3 separate regions of the Homo sapiens genome follow, and all the other regions are reported to be linked to region 2. The links are microRNA targets in miRTarBase. Many come from high-throughput screens and were not tested one by one. Region 2 holds a microRNA gene; each other region holds the end of a gene's coding sequence.

Region 1 (5,221 bases), not on the chromosome of region 2:
CTTGCCCCAGCCCCACCTCCCTCTCAAACCCTCTCTGGCTCTTTCTGAGCTTCCTTTCCTGCTCCCCAGCTTGCCCAGTGCTCAGTGCCCCACTTGGCTCTTTTGCTACTTCGGGTCAGGTGGAGCCTCTTGGGAATGTGAAGTGCCTTACAGAAAGATTGCACTTCAAGAGGAGAGGCTGCAGGGAGCCATCCTAAACCCAGAGGCCTGGAGCTTACTGTGTCACTTTACTTTTGTACACAGGGGTCTCCTTAGTGCCCTCGAGAAGGATTCTTGGCCCTGAGCTTCTACTCCTGAGGCCACCTCTGTGCAGCCCCAGCTCCCTCAACTCTAGGCTGTAGTCTCAGTGGGAAAGCCTGGCTTGGGGGTCTCCTAGGAATGTCCACCTGAAGGCACACTTGATAGGGGCTTGCACAACTTATGTCTGCCAAGGCCACCTGAGGAACTCCCTGGTGCCTATAAGTTCCACCTTCCCCTTCCTCTTCCTCGCCCCAGCATTTTTTCTGAGTAGGGGTGGCAATGGGCAAAGCCATTGTCATAAGCAGTTGCAGGTATAACTTTCACTAGAAAACCTGACACCTTGTGTTTTCTTTCAGGCTTCCCAGAGGTCTGTGCGACTAGGTGAGTCTGGTCTGGGTTTGAAGTCATTGCAGACCTGTTTAGGCCTTACCCCCAAGCAAGCCCAAGCCTGCCATCTGCTGTATATAGATAAGAACATCATGGTGCAGTAAAAGAAGCCTGGCCTTTGGAGTCAGAACAGCAGGGTGACTTGGGGTCAGACCCAGAGCACCCCATTTCCTTCTCTGTAAGATGAGGATAATAAGAGTAACAACCTTTTAGGGTTAAGGTGAGTTTTCAGCTTAGGAAGTCTGGGAATATTGCAAAGGGCTTGGCAGGAACCCATGGTGAGGATCTAGTTCCAAGTTGATAGGTACAGAAAACCAGAACATCGGGCCTTGAGTAAAGAGTGAAGTTTCACAAACCACAAAGCACCTGCTATGTGCAGGAGAGCATGGCAGAAGGAGGCTGCTTGGCCCTGGTCCTTGAGATTCTGACAGTGTCCTAGACAGACATGGGGAGATCTGCACCTATTTGACGTTACCAACTTCTCTTTTTCAGCCCCTGTCTATCAAAAGTTATTAGAGAGGATGAAGCATTAGCTTGAAGCACTACAGGAGGAATGCACCACGGCAGCTCTCCGCCAATTTCTCTCAGATTTCCACAGAGACTGTTTGAATGTTTTCAAAACCAAGTATCACACTTTAATGTACATGGGCCGCACCATAATGAGATGTGAGCCTTGTGCATGTGGGGGAGGAGGGAGAGAGATGTACTTTTTAAATCATGTTCCCCCTAAACATGGCTGTTAACCCACTGCATGCAGAAACTTGGATGTCACTGCCTGACATTCACTTCCAGAGAGGACCTATCCCAAATGTGGAATTGACTGCCTATGCCAAGTCCCTGGAAAAGGAGCTTCAGTATTGTGGGGCTCATAAAACATGAATCAAGCAATCCAGCCTCATGGGAAGTCCTGGCACAGTTTTTGTAAAGCCCTTGCACAGCTGGAGAAATGGCATCATTATAAGCTATGAGTTGAAATGTTCTGTCAAATGTGTCTCACATCTACACGTGGCTTGGAGGCTTTTATGGGGCCCTGTCCAGGTAGAAAAGAAATGGTATGTAGAGCTTAGATTTCCCTATTGTGACAGAGCCATGGTGTGTTTGTAATAATAAAACCAAAGAAACATACGTCCTGTGTGCATGGTACAGTGTGCTGACCTGAGGCCGTCATGCTCCTCCACACCTCAATTCTGCTCTGGAGAAGCTCAGAAAGGAGCCCCGAGGGATGGTTTTGGGGAGATTCCAGCAGCCAGCCCTCAGACAGCCAGACAGCTCATGGGGGTTTGAGCCTGTCTTTGCCAAACAGGTTTTTATTTCACCCTCCTCCGGTCCTGGGGTTTCAAGTTTTCAGTGTTGCCTTCACCCCGCACTTTATTCCTCTTATTACTTGGAAGTACCTTCCCTCCAGCATGGTGATCCCCTGCCTGTGTGCTGGACTTTTGAGTCCTCAGCACCAACCTGTGAAGTGGTTGCCAGCATAATCCCATTATGCAGATGAGGAGACCAAGGCCCAGGGAAGGGAGAACCACCAGCAGCACGTAAAATAGCTGAGCTGGGACTGGAACTCACACCTCCTGACTCTCAGTGACCACCACTGACAACAGCATAAGTCCAGGTTTTCCAGGCCCATCCCCTCTGTGCCAACCCACATTCAGATTCCTTCCCCGGCTCCCGTAATCTCTGGCATCTAGAATATCCTCAGGACTCTGAGAGGTGATATCATGTGGTTGTGGTGCCATTGCCCCCTACCTGTGTGGCCTGGGGCCAGTCATGTGACCTCCCAGGGTCTCCTCTTCTGTAATAGGGAGATGACCGTCACATCTACTTCATGGGTCCATCGTGAGGATGAAATGAGATGATCTATATAAAATGCTTGGTACAACATTAGGTGGCCTTATTTTTATCCTGCCGTCTGGGACTGCTCAGGATCAATGCGCCAGAGAGCCTTTATTTGTGTCTTTCCCACAGGTGGGCTGGCCCACTTTCCTAGAGAATGGGACAGACCTCCTTCCCACCCACACCCATCTCTGCCAAGGCTGATTCACTCCAGCAGGCGGAGCTCATTTCACTTCATGGAACCAATGACCCAAAGATATATCCCCAGCACTACTGCTGGTCAGTCCACTGCTGCTGGGAATACAGCAATGGTAGTGGCAGACAGAGGCCCTCTCTTAAATAGCTTCCAGTCTGAGGAAAGAGAGATATGACATCAATCCATTAAAATCATTCATCCATTGGTTCCACAAATATTTGTTGAGGGCTACCTATGTGCACCCCCATGTTAGACCCTGGGGAATAGACATGTCATTCTCATGAGGCTTCTCTACTGATGGGGGGGAAGAGAATTGTCAACCAGATAATGGCACTACAGCCTGTGTGTTCTTAGTGACTCTGAGGATAGCACTGTGGTTCTGTGACAGATAATGAAGGATTTGGAAGCAGGAATGCCCAGGAGCTCCCAGAAGTGGGAAGAGATGAGAGGAATGGAAGGAACTTACCTGAAGGTGAAGGCATCAGGCTAGGGGACCAAGGGAGAAGGTGTCCTGAGAGGTAAGGCTTAACCTTGGGTGTGAATTCAGTTCCCGTCACTCTCCCATAGCTCTGTCCTGCTGTTCCCACCTCCCCTGCAGCCATGCGGGCTTGGGCGGCTAGTGAGGGCCTTGCTCATGCTGGGTATCCTATGCTATGCTTCACTTTGAGCACCTAAAATACACACACTGCACTTTACCAAGATGACCTCGGAAACCAAAGAGGTGATCAGCATAAGTTTTAAAGACCCTTAAATTTAAAGTAAAAATCACTACAGGATCCATTATAAATGCCAAACACTAAGATGTGTGTTTCCAGTTCTCCCCTTCATTTGTCCCTGCCACTCCCTGCCCTGACTTTGCCCCACCCCCTAGTAATGTGGGCTCCACTCTATGCTCCAAACTCTCCCTGGAGAGAAATCCTCCCTGTGGTTGAGGACAAGGCGCAGCCTTCCCCTCCCACCAAAGAAGGTCAGATTCCCTTTTTTGGTTCCTAACCATCCATACCCCTTCTTTTCTCATGAAGACTCGGGCTAAGCATTCATTAGGGCTGCCATCTGGAGGATGGACCCTTAGAGCTGAGGGGCCAGCACTGTGTGTTTCCAGGGGTGGGTGATTTTGGGGAGGGAGGTGTGCCTCACCCCATCAGAAGGCCAGAGGGTAGCCCAAGCTAGAAGGAGGTTGCCCAGGCCTTGCCTGAGCCCTGACCACTGAGCCCCAACCAAGGAAATGGAAGGAGAGGAAGAAGGGGAATGGGCTCTTCTTAGTCCACTTCTGTCTTTGCTGTCACTCTGGGAATACAAAGCTTTCTGGGATGTAGAGAGGACTGCAAAGACCCTCAGCATTGGGCCCTGAGGCCTCCCAGGATGGGGTATGCCTTTCCCACACAGGGGACAGGGGTGGCCTAAACCTGGCCACATTGGCCAACTGAGAGGCCAGCTCAGCCATGGGGCCAGAGAGGCCTGCTGTATTGGGCTATGCACCTATGTGCATTATTTTTTCTATTACTTGCACTGATACTATGACACAGGTAAGTACTATTAAAATTCTCATTTTACTGCTGCAGAAATAGAAGCTTAGAGAGCTAAAGTAGTTTGCCAGGTCACAGAATAAGAAGAGGCTGAAACACAAATCCAGCCATTCTTAACCACGCTTCTCCCTTCTGCTCAACTATACCAGAGGCCAGGAGGGGTAGTCAAGGCAGCCATGGACAAGCAGACATGAATGCCAGGTGGTCAGAAGGGCTCAAAACCCCCTACCCTCCAGAGAAGCCCCTGCAGGCCAGGTCTCTGCTTGCACAGCCTAGAACATAACTTGTTTCTATGGTGCCAGGGCATTAAGAATTAGCAATAGCCACGAGTGCCCCAGAACTCATGTCTGGAAAAAAAGAGAGGAAAATACCTCTGTGCTTGAAAGCATAATTCAGTGTTATGCTCTTAGAAGAGATGCCTGGAATATTATGCTCAGAACTCTTTTCAAAGCCAGGAGAGAAAGTCATGGAATGAGGGATGGGCCCGAAGCCCTGTCCAGAGAAGTCAAATGAGGCCACCTTGGGCCATCCCTATCTGGCAGGGAAAGAAACTCATCCATTCCAGAAAGCCAGAGAGCCAGCCCAGAGAATAAGTGGTGGGTGGAGAGGGGAGGAGTCTGGGACAACCTCTATACACACGCACATTCATTCACACACACAAACACACACACACACACACACACACACACATGCATGCATGCACACACACCCCTGCATGGGAAACCGAAGACACAGCCTTAGGCAGAGAAAACAGGCACAGCACACCCACTTGTGGTTGGGGAGAGGACTCCAGGACCTGGAGGTGGAAGGCAGCAGCTGGAGCTCTGGCCTCAGGCCTGTTAGAGGAGGCTCCCTGGAGCTGCTACACCCTGTCACCCATGCAGGCCCTAACAGTCCCTGCAGTGCTGGAGCTCCCCATCACTTGGGGAGGCGATGGAGGTCACTGAGACCTGAAGAATGAAGAGGGTGGGGAAGAGAATTCAGTCTGAAGAACAGTGTCATAAAGGCTCTGAGAAAATGTGAGAGAGTTTTGTGTGGC
Region 2 (5,221 bases):
ATCCCAAGTCCAGGCAGGAAGGACCACTGGGCTCCAGAAACCAAATGAAGTGGCCCTGGGCAGGAGTCTCTGTTGTCAGATTCCATGACTAAGACAGCCAGGGAGCAGAGTGAAAATCCCAGGGGCTCTCTCTCCCAGAAGACACCTGCTCCATCCAGATCAAACCCAAAATGTCCCCAGAGAATGATGCCTGCTTCTCCTTTCCCCTCGGCTCATCCTGCCTGCATCGGTGCAGTGCCCTGACGTTCCCAGCCCAGAGGCCTTCACTCCTTCCAGTGCCCCAGGAGGGTCACCTTGCAGTTCTCAGGGAGGAAGATGGGGTCTTCCACCCTTGTGAGCTTCCCAGACATCAGGGTCTGCCCGCCCCACTCCATTCCCAAAGGATGTTCCGCCCAGTTCTCCCAGCCTCCTGCTTCCCTCCAGGGACCACCCTTCAGTGGTAAGATTCACATTGCAGACAACCAGGACCAACCCATTATCCTCAACTGGACACCCATACAAGATTGGTCTACGTGACCGGCCTACAAGAGGCAGATCCAGAGCTAGAGAGATGGGGAGTCGTTGCCACGGTCTGGGTGGAAGAGGTGGGTGGGTACTGACTGCAAATGAGTATAAGCCTCTTCGGGGTGATGAAAATCTTCCAAAACTAGAGTGGTGGTGGCTGCAAACAAGCTAAAATCCACATCTCAGAGTTCATCTCAAAAGATTAGTTTCTCGGCCGGGCGCGGTGGCTCACGCCTATAATCCCAGCACTTTGGGAGGCCGAGGCGGGCGGATCACGAGGTTAGAAGATCGAGACCATCCTGGCTAACACGGTGAAACCCCGTCTCTACTGAAAATGCAAAAAATACAAAAATTAGATGGGCGTGGTTGCACGCACCTGTGATCCCAGCTACTCAGGAGGCTGAGGTTTCAGTGAGCCAAGATAGTGCCACTGCATTGCTGAGACACACAGTGAGACTCCCTGTCAAACAAACAAACAAACAAACAAAAACGACCGGAGCCCAAGAAATGTAGGTTGAAGTGTCACCGCACTCCAGCCTGGGCAACAGGGACCTTGTCTTGGAATACAACAAAACAAAAGCAAAACCCCACCATCATCCAAGTCTGATGATAAGCACGCTCTGCAAATATTTTACCAAGATCAGCATCAACTTCAACATTGCTTTTCCCAAACGGTAACCCTCTAAAAGGAAGCACTTGCTTTTCTTTCTGACCACAGAAAGCGCTTCCCTTTAGAGGGTCACAGCCTGAGATCCTCTTGCTCCAGCACCGTGGATTTTTTGTGGGAATCTTCCTTGACCAGGTTTAAATGGACACAAAAATAAAGATGCATTTATTGGGGCCGGGCGCAGTGGCTCATGCCTGTAATCCCAGCACTTTGGGAGGCCGAGGCGGGCAGATCACGAGGTCAGGAGATCAAGACCATCCTGGCTAACAGGGTGAAACCCCGCCTCTACTAAAAATACAAAAAATTAGCCTAGCGTGGTGGTGGGCACCTGTAGCCCCAGCTACTTGGAAAGCTGAGGCAGGAGAATGGCGTGAACCCAGGAGGCTGAGCTTGCAGTGAGCCAAGATTGTGCCACTGCACTCCAGCCTGGGTGACAGAACGAGACTCCATCTCAAAAACAAAACAAAACAAAACAAAAAGATGCATTTATTGGCCCTGTTTGCATGTTTTCTGGAATCCAGAACATAAACCCCTAAAAGGACCATCTCCAGTCCTTTGCTTCAAAGAATCAGCAGGTTAGCCTTGTTCATCAAGGGGCAATCCTCCTGAGTTCTGTCCCCAAAGAGAAAAAGCAATGCCTACCACATATACCTTATATTTAACCATGAGAATTGAGCTGGATTTCTAGAGAACAGCAATGGATTTTGAGCCAAGTGTTCACTCGAGTTCCAGCACAGGGACACACAGTCCCGATGGGAGCATCCAAAATGGAATCTACTATGTTCAAGAATATACACTGTCTCACACACAAACATCCTGCAGGATAGACCACAGGGTATGCTGTATAAGCTCCTCAATAAATACAGAAATACACAAGTATGGGTGGGGCGTGGTGGCTCACACCAATAAACCCAGCACTTAAAGAGGGCAAGGCAGGAGGATCACTTGAGCTCAGGAGTTCGAGCTCAACCAGCATGGGTAATATGGTGAAACCTTATGCACAAAAAATAGAAAAGTTAGCTGGGTGTGGTGGTGCGCACCTGTAGACAAGTACTCAGGAGGCTGAGGTGGCAGGTGGAGGTTGCAGTAAGTCGACATGGCACCACTGCACTCCAGCCTGGGTGATAAAGCTAGACCTTGTCTCAAAACAAAACAAACAAACAAACAAGAAAAACACAGAAAGAAACAAGTAAATAAATACCCAAAGTGATACAAGAGTATTCTCCGTGTGTAGAACAGGGTTTGGTGTACATATGACTACATTATATACATGATAAGACTATATGATTAAATATACATCATATATTGTTGAGACCCTGTCTATGAAAAAAAAAAAAAAGAATATACTGTTTGCTCACATTAAAAATAACTCCTCACCGGGTGCGGTGGCTCATGCCTGTAATCCCAGCAGTTTGGGAGGCCGAGGCAGGTGGATTAGTTGAGGTCAGGAGTTTGAGACCAGCCGGACCAACATGGCAAAACCCCGATTCTACCAAAAGGACAAAAATTAGCCGGGGTGGCGGCATGCACCTGAAATCCCAGCTACTCAGGAGGCTGAGGCAGGAGAATCGCTTGAACCCGGAAGGCGTAGGTTGCAGTGAGCCGAGATCATGCCACTGCACTCCAGCCTGGGCGACAAGAATGAGACTCCATCTCAAACAAACAAACAAACAAACAAACAAAATTCCTACACACAAGTGCTTGCTTTGGCAGCACAAAAAAATACAAATAATAATTAAAAAAAAAAAAAAAAACACCCTGCAGTCCGAGCAGGGTGGCTCATGCCTGTAATCCCACCACTTTGGAAAGCAGAGGCGGGCAGATCACCTGAGGTCAGGAGTTCAAGACTAACCTGGCCAATGTGGTGAAACTCCATCTCTGCTAAAAATACAAAAATTAGCCAGGCGTGGTGGCACGTGCCTATAATACCAGCTACTTGGGAGGCCGAGGTTGCAGTGAGCAGAGAATGTGTCACTGCCTGCCCGCCTGGCCCACATAGTGAGACTCTGTCTCAAGAACAAAAACAACAAAAAAAGTAGGGGGGACCAACTAGCCTAAGAGGTCTAGGTTGGAAGCGCCACCGCACTCCTGCCCGGGCAACAGAAACCCTGTGTTGCAAAAAAACTAAACAAAAACAGAACCCCAACATCATGCAAGTCTGATGATAAGCACGCTCTGCAAATGCGTTACCAAGATCAGCATCAACTTCAACGTGGTTTTTCTCAAACAGTAACACTCTAAAAGGAGGCACTTTGTTTTCTTTCAAACAGAAAGTGCTCCCTTTTGGAGAATGACTGCATGAGATCTTCTCGCTCCAAAACTCTGGGTTTTTGTTGGAATTTTCCTTACCAGGTTAAAATGGACACAAAAATAAAGATGCATTCATTGTCCCTGTTTGCATGTTTTCTGGAATCCAGAACATAAACCCCTAAAAGGACCATCTCCAGTTCCTTGCTTCAAAGGCTCAGCAGGTTAGCCTTGTTCACGAAGGGGCAACCCTCCTGAGTATTGTCTCCAAAGAGAAAAAGCAAAGCCTACCACACATACCTTATATTTAACCAAGAGAATTGGGCTGGATTTCTAGAGAACAGCAATGGATTTTGAGCCATGTGTTCACTTGAGTTCCAGCACAGGGACACACAGTCCCGATGGGAGCAACCAAAATGGAATCTAAGATGATATTTAAGAATATACGTTGTGGGCCAGGCACAGTGGCTCATGCCTGTAATCCCAGCACTTTGCGAGGCCGAGGCAGGTGGATCACCTAAGGTCAGGAGTTCAAGACTAATCTGGCCATCATGATGAAACTCCGTCTCTGCTAAAAATACAAAAATTAGCCAGGCGTGGTGGCATGTGCCTGTAATACCAGCTACTCGGGAGGCAGAGGTTGCAGTGAGCAGAGAACATACCACTGCACTCCAGCCTGGGCCACAGAGAGAGACTGTCTCAAGAGAAAAAAAAGGGGGAGGGGGTGGGGGCAGGGACCAACTGAGCCCAAGAGGTCTAGGTTGGAAGTGTCACCGCACTCCAGCCTGGGCAAGAGACCCTGTGTTGCAAAAAAACTAAACAAAAACAGAACCCCAACATCATGCAAGTCTGATGATAAGCACGCTCTGCAAATGTGTTACCAAGATCAGCATCAACTTCAACGTGGTTTTTCTCAAACAGTAACGCTCCAAAAGAAGGCACTCTGCTTTCAGACAACAGAAAGTGCTTTCTTTTGGAGAATGACTGCATGAGATCTTCTCACTCCAAAACTCTGGGTTTTTTGTTGGAATTTACCTTACCAGATTAAAATGAACACAAAAATAAAGATGCATTCATTGGCCAGGCGCGGTGGCTCACGCCTGGAATCCCAACACTTTGGGAGGCTGGTCAAGAGACCACGACCATCCTGGCCAACATGGTGAAACTCCGTCTCTACTAAAAATACAACCATTTGCCGCCTGTGGTGGCATGTACCTGTAGTCCCAGCTACTCGGGAGGCTGAGGCAGGGGAATTACTTGAACCAGGAGGCAGAAGTTGCAGTGAGCCGAGATCGTGCCACTGCACTCCAGACTGGCAAGAGTAAGACTCCATCTCAAAAAAAAATAAAAATAAAAATAAAAAAGGTGCATTCATTGCCCCTGTTTGCATGTTTTATGGAATCCAGAACATAAACCCCTGAAAGGACCATCTCCAGTTCCTTGCTTCAAAGGCTTAGCAGGTTAGCCTTGTTCATCAAGGGGCAATCCTCCTGAGTTTTGTCCCCAAAGAGAAAAAGCAATGCCTACCACACATACCTTATCTTTAACCAAGAGAATTGGGCTGGATTTCTAAGGATGTTGAGCCAGTGTTCACTTGAGTTCCAGCACAGAAACACACAGTCCTGATGGGAACATCCAAAATGGAATCTAAGATAATGTTTAAGAATATACATTGTTGTACACACAAATACCCTCCAGGACAGACCACAGGCTAGGCCGTAAAAGCTCCTCAGTAAGATTTGACAGAGCTGGGGGGAAAAAAAGAATGTACATTGTCACACACACGAACATTCTTCAGGATAG
Region 3 (5,221 bases), not on the chromosome of region 2:
AGCTAATGGACAGCATGAGATATCCTTCAGTGTTGCAGATACTGAAGTGACTTCTAGCATATCAATAAATTCTTCAGAAGTACCAGAGGTCACCCCGTCAGAGAATGTTGGATCAAGCTCCCAAGCATCCTCATCAGATAAAGCCAACATGTTGCAGGAATACTCCAAGTTTCTGCAGCAGGCTTTGGACAGAACTAGCCAAAATGATGCCTATTTGAATAGCCCGAGCCTTAACTTTGTGACTGATAACCAGACCCTCCCAAATCAGCCAGCATTCTCTTCCATAGACAAGCAGGTCTATGCCACCATGCCCATCAATAGCTTTCGATCAGGAATGAATTCTCCACTAAGAACAACTCCAGATAAGTCCCACTTTGGACTAATAGTTGGTGATTCACAGCACTCATTTCCCTTTTCAGGTGATGAGACAAACCATGCTTCTGCCACATCAACACAGGACTTTCTGGATCAAGTGACTTCTCAGAAGAAAGCTGAGGCCCAGCCTGTCCACCAAGCTTACCAAATGAGCTCCTTTGAACAGCCCTTCCGTGCTCCCTATCATGGATCAAGAGCTGGAATAGCTACTCAATTTAGCACTGCCAATGGACAGGTGAACCTTCGGGGACCAGGGACAAGTGCTGAATTTTCAGAATTTCCCTTGGTGAATGTAAATGATAATAGAGCTGGGATGACATCTTCACCTGATGCCACAACTGGCCAGACTTTTGGCTAAAAAAAAAAAAAAAGTGTAAATAATACTGGCACTTTAGAACAGATTAATCAAGAGTGGGGTTACTCTGTGTAAATGGAGTGCTGTACAGATTTAAGAGCAATGCGTAATAACAAGTTAAGCTGATATGAATAGCAAGATAATCCAATAACTGCATTTCGTTTGGTTAGTCAGCATTCTTTGAACTGCCTTACATGTTGTCACCTTTATAGAAGCAATGCATTACTTGTTTTAGATCAGAAACTTGCTATTCCACCCACACCAAGTTAAAAAGGAAAAAAAAAAGACTTTCGCACAATTGTTTCCTAACTGATAACATTGTACATTCTTAGGAGATTAGTAATTGTGTGAAATTTACTCATACTGTTTCTAAGTTTTTCAGCATAGTCATTGCACTTCAGCAGGGAATCTGAGTATACTTTACAGACAGAGTGAACTTAAAAGTTTAATGTCAAGAGATTATGGCTTAAATAAATTAGTGTGTCCTATAGGGGGAAAAAAACCAAGAAACCACCTTTTAAAAAGAATGATATGCCATATACCCTTGATTTTCATTTTGCATTATATTGACGTGTTTTTTTGAAGGAAAAAAAGTAATAAAAATCTGATAGTCTAAGACTCCACTATTTAAAAGCCTAATTACTTTAAAAATATGCATACTTTCAGAACTTTTACCAAAACACACAACTGTTGAAGCAGTCACTTCTCTATGGAAGTATGCATATTGGTGTCAGTTTCTTTGTACAGTTGTACTTAGATATTTTTTATGATTTTTCATGTGCAGGTATCAAGGTTTTGAAGTTTTAGTAAAAGAAATTCTGTAGATTACATTCCCAAGAACATAATGCTTACACAAAATGTATATTCCACGTTTTAAAGCTTAATTGTATTTTACTTTACATATACACTTCAGTTAACATAGAGCACTTAGAATCTATTTGGTATTTTTGATTTCTCAAAGTAAAAAAAAAATTAGATTTTTAGGTTTGATATGGTTGTGTCATAATCATCTCGTAATTGACAATTTTAACTTTTGGCAATAAAAGGAAATTGGGATATCTTTGGAACTGTAAAACCTGGTTTAATCTTTTTCTTTCTAGACTCTTGATAGATTGGATAATTAAACAGTATCCAGAGAAACTAAAGAAATGGGCATTTTAATTGCATATTTTATCTTGAGTTACTTTTTAATGAACACTGCTCATTACAACTTTACAAACCAAAAGTGTTTACTAATTCCAGTAACTACCATTTCTTTTTCAGCTAGATGAGTGATCGGAAAATTTTTGTTGCATTTCAAAATCTAAATAAACTACAGACTTTATCCTTATACCATGAATGTTTTTTTTTAATACTCTGTCTTAAAATAATACAGCATGGTACAATAAATAGTGCTTTTATGTATATATACACACACACACTTTTCTGAAGAATGATGGTTTGAGTTATGCGTTGGGCAGTTTTGATTTTTGGAAGTTATATTAGTTATTGACTCTTTGTTACAACTTTTTCATTTTTACATTTTAAATTTTCTGCCATCGTTGTCACAATGCACATCCTGATATAGCACCAGTGAAAATCTAAAATTAATACCCTTGGAAAATGAAAATATTCTTAATTTCCATTTTGACTCTTATACTGGCCCTATAGCTCTGCAGTCTTTGTTTCAATATAGAATATGTTATCCATTTAAATTATTTTTTCTTTTATTTAATGTTATCCCAAGACTGTTCTCATAAAGAAAGGGAAGAAATAACTATCCACCCTTAACATCCTTCATTTATTTTGAATATATTGGTGTTTTTATGATAAGGAATATAAATTATATTTAATGTGGTTTCCTGTATACTTTGGTTATTAAGTTTTGCTTGAAATAGTAGTTTTCCCGTTTGACAGCTTTCTTTGCTGCCAAAGTTTTCAAGAATTTAAGACTTCTTTGAAGTAAATATTTAAGTTCTGCCATTATTGACTCTTAAGATTGTGTGTGTTGTGTTGTGCATTACATAATTACAAAAAGGCTTCATTCAGGTGATACGTTAAAAATGGAACTGTGCTCACCCTAAATAGGCATTGGTATTTTTCTCTTTTGGTGAGAGTAGGCATTTATTTCTTGAGTTGTTTTGGAGCCTGATCAAAAATTTTGTTCATGGAGAACTTGATGCAATTTTGATACAGTGGAGAGGTTTTTTTCGGTTGTTTTAACATCACCAGCATAGTTTTTAGAATGTGACTCTTGCTGAGCATTTAGGGTGAGCTTGGGAAGGAAGGCCTTTGAAAATGGTAGTTATGCAAGCAGACTTTCAGGTGTTGCATTCCTGTTTTCAACACATTTCTTTAAATCTACATAATGGCAGACTTTTCTACCAGGTTATAAGCAGTTTTTAGATAAGTGATACTCAGCCAGCATAACTTATTGACTTACCATTTACGTATAGTCATCACTCTCTTACTGTGAAATTCCAAATGCCTACCAGAGTTACCTTGTTCTATCATAATATGACAAACATCTCAACAGTTTTGGATTTCCCCACTTTGGTTCAGAAGGTTATTTAATTTCTATCTGGGCATTAATGGAGAAAATAAGTAGCCTTGTGTGCTGCTTCAGATTGAAACATGGAGGATATGAGATATTCTTCTGCAATTCATGTTTCTCATTTCTCAAAGTGAGCACATTGTTCTATAAAAACATGCTGGTACACCCTTAAACTTTTGATCAATCTGAGTGAGGTGTGCTTTTCCTCTTGGGACCTACTCACGTTTGAAGATTGGAAACATCACGTTAGGCGAGGCAGTATCTCTTGAACATCTTCTAAAGGGTTTTTTAAAACCTTATTCTCACATATTTCATTTGTCTTGAATATTTAAGTGGCTCTTAAACGTTTTGGGTCTACATGCAAATGTGGTACTTAACAAGGTAGGAATCCATCTTCTTAGCTCTGGCTGAGGGTGCCAGCCATCGGTCAGGTCATTTTTATCTCAAGAGGCAGAAGGCAGTTATGTCAAGAATTGTGCTCAGGGCAGGATTTCGTTTCCACAGAGGAGAGACACTTGCAGAGTGCCAGCTAGGTTAGATCTTTTGCCGCTTCTTTCATTTGATTAATTTGGGTTTTTAAAGGGCTGTTTAAAAAAAAAAAAAAAAGGCCGGGAAACTTTAAAAGTAGGCATTACTGTAGTACTGCATTTCTTAGAACATTTTAAACTAGAACTCATTTTTTTTTCACAGTATATTTACTTGAAGAAGCACTATAATAATCATTGAGAAGTATTTTGAGTCTGAAATTTAATTTAATTTTCCGTTTCAAATTGCTTTATTTCAGGGAAATAATTTTCCAGTTGTTTTGCTATATTCTGCAAATAAAAACCGTGTTTCCTTTTTTCACTTAAACTTTGGTAGGAAACAAACTAAAGCAGACAAACATTTCTTGTTATGTTTGTTGCTTTCTTTAATCCAATGGATAAAAAAGTAAAACCCTGTAAACATTATTTTATTTTTTTATGCAATACCATGCTGTAAATATGGTTCATCAAATAAGGATGTACCTATGATTGAATCTTTAATTCTGCACAGTTAGAGTTTATATATAAACGTGTCTTGACAATCAAGGACTTTTATGTGAGTCTTCCTTTATGATGTTTATTAATGTTATGCATTCCATTTGTTTTGAAGTGAGTACCAATGTGCTAATTTGTATTGTCTGAAAGTATGTAATGTTTTTACAGCTTGTTTTTAAGAATCTGTAAATATGTACAAACAAATCACAGTACTGCTTTATGTTAGAAGGCATATGATGTTGTACTGTATGTAAGCAATAATACATAGCAGTGCTAACTTTACAAGTAGCATCAGGAAAGTTCTAAAAACATTTCAGAGTTATTAATTATCCTTATTTCATTTAATAATGATTATCTTTAATCAGTTTTTATAAGCAAATTCCATTGTTCCTCCTATTGGAACGTAACACTGTTTACACAGCATAATTGAAGTTGCAGGGGAGACAGGCTAAATCTGACTTCATCTGTACTCACTTTCACTAAGCATTGAATGGCCTTACCACTCTTCTGCAAGATGGAGGAAGACCGCAAAACTTAGTGCCCATCACACTGAAGGAAGGGATGTGGTTTTTTTTCCTGCTTCTGTACTGCTACCTAACTTTGTGATTTGCTTTGGATTTTAATATTTGTTTCTGTTTTAGATTCAAGCCCGTAAGTTTTGAGGTGACTTCAGCTCCATTGTGAAATAGATAGTTCTCTTCATATTTCATAACTACATTTCAATAATTCTAAACTTTCTACATTGATTTTTAGATACTTATTTTTCAAGCTTGGTTTCTCAGCTGATCAGATGAATTTATTCAACTTCAATACAAAGAAAGACAAACCTATTATAGTTTCAAGTGAGTAGATATTATACTGTACAGGACAGCTATTTGAACACACACATCACTGCTTTAGAAATAAAACCGCCAATTTATAAATGTATATGACCTACAT

The links. Region 2 holds the annotated microRNA hsa-miR-519e-5p (UUCUCCAAAAGGGAGCACUUUC, at 3,441-3,462, opposite strand). A microRNA usually pairs through its seed, bases 2 to 8, with sites in the 3' UTR of a target mRNA and lowers its output. Matches are read on the target gene's strand: a 7mer-m8 pairs with bases 2 to 8, a 7mer-A1 pairs with bases 2 to 7 and ends in A, and an 8mer does both.
Region 1: miRTarBase lists TGFBI as a target of hsa-miR-519e-5p. Seed matches in the 3' UTR shown: 7mer-A1 at 1,567-1,573.
Region 3: miRTarBase lists ZNF148 as a target of hsa-miR-519e-5p. Seed matches in the 3' UTR shown: 7mer-A1 at 2,878-2,884 and 7mer-A1 at 3,302-3,308.

The regions. Positions count from the first base shown.
Region 1 is chr5:136,062,067-136,067,287 of GRCh38, forward strand. TGFBI (transforming growth factor beta induced) reads left to right here. Exons shown (of 17, transcript NM_000358.3): 16 at 597-621; 17 at 1,120-1,752. The coding sequence ends at 1,160. Among named protein-coding and RNA genes, the nearest start is that of TGFBI, 36 kb to the left of the region's middle. RefSeq lists a silencer at 612-711.
Region 2 is chr19:53,678,194-53,683,414 of GRCh38, reverse strand. It overlaps MIR519E (microRNA 519e), which reads right to left and starts at 3,475; the gene lies at 3,392-3,475. It overlaps MIR515-1 (microRNA 515-1), which reads right to left and starts at 4,412; the gene lies at 4,330-4,412. MIR520F (microRNA 520f) reads right to left here and starts at 1,256; the gene lies at 1,170-1,256. The region is part of intron 2 of LOC107985342 (a long non-coding RNA gene); the gene reads right to left. RefSeq lists an enhancer at 5,220-5,221.
Region 3 is chr3:125,227,853-125,233,073 of GRCh38, reverse strand. It overlaps ZNF148 (zinc finger protein 148), which reads left to right. Exons shown (of 9, transcript NM_021964.3): 9 at 1-5,221. The coding sequence ends at 733. Among named protein-coding and RNA genes, the nearest start is that of SLC12A8, 18 kb to the right of the region's middle. RefSeq lists an enhancer at 1-1,109 and a silencer at 1,043-1,243.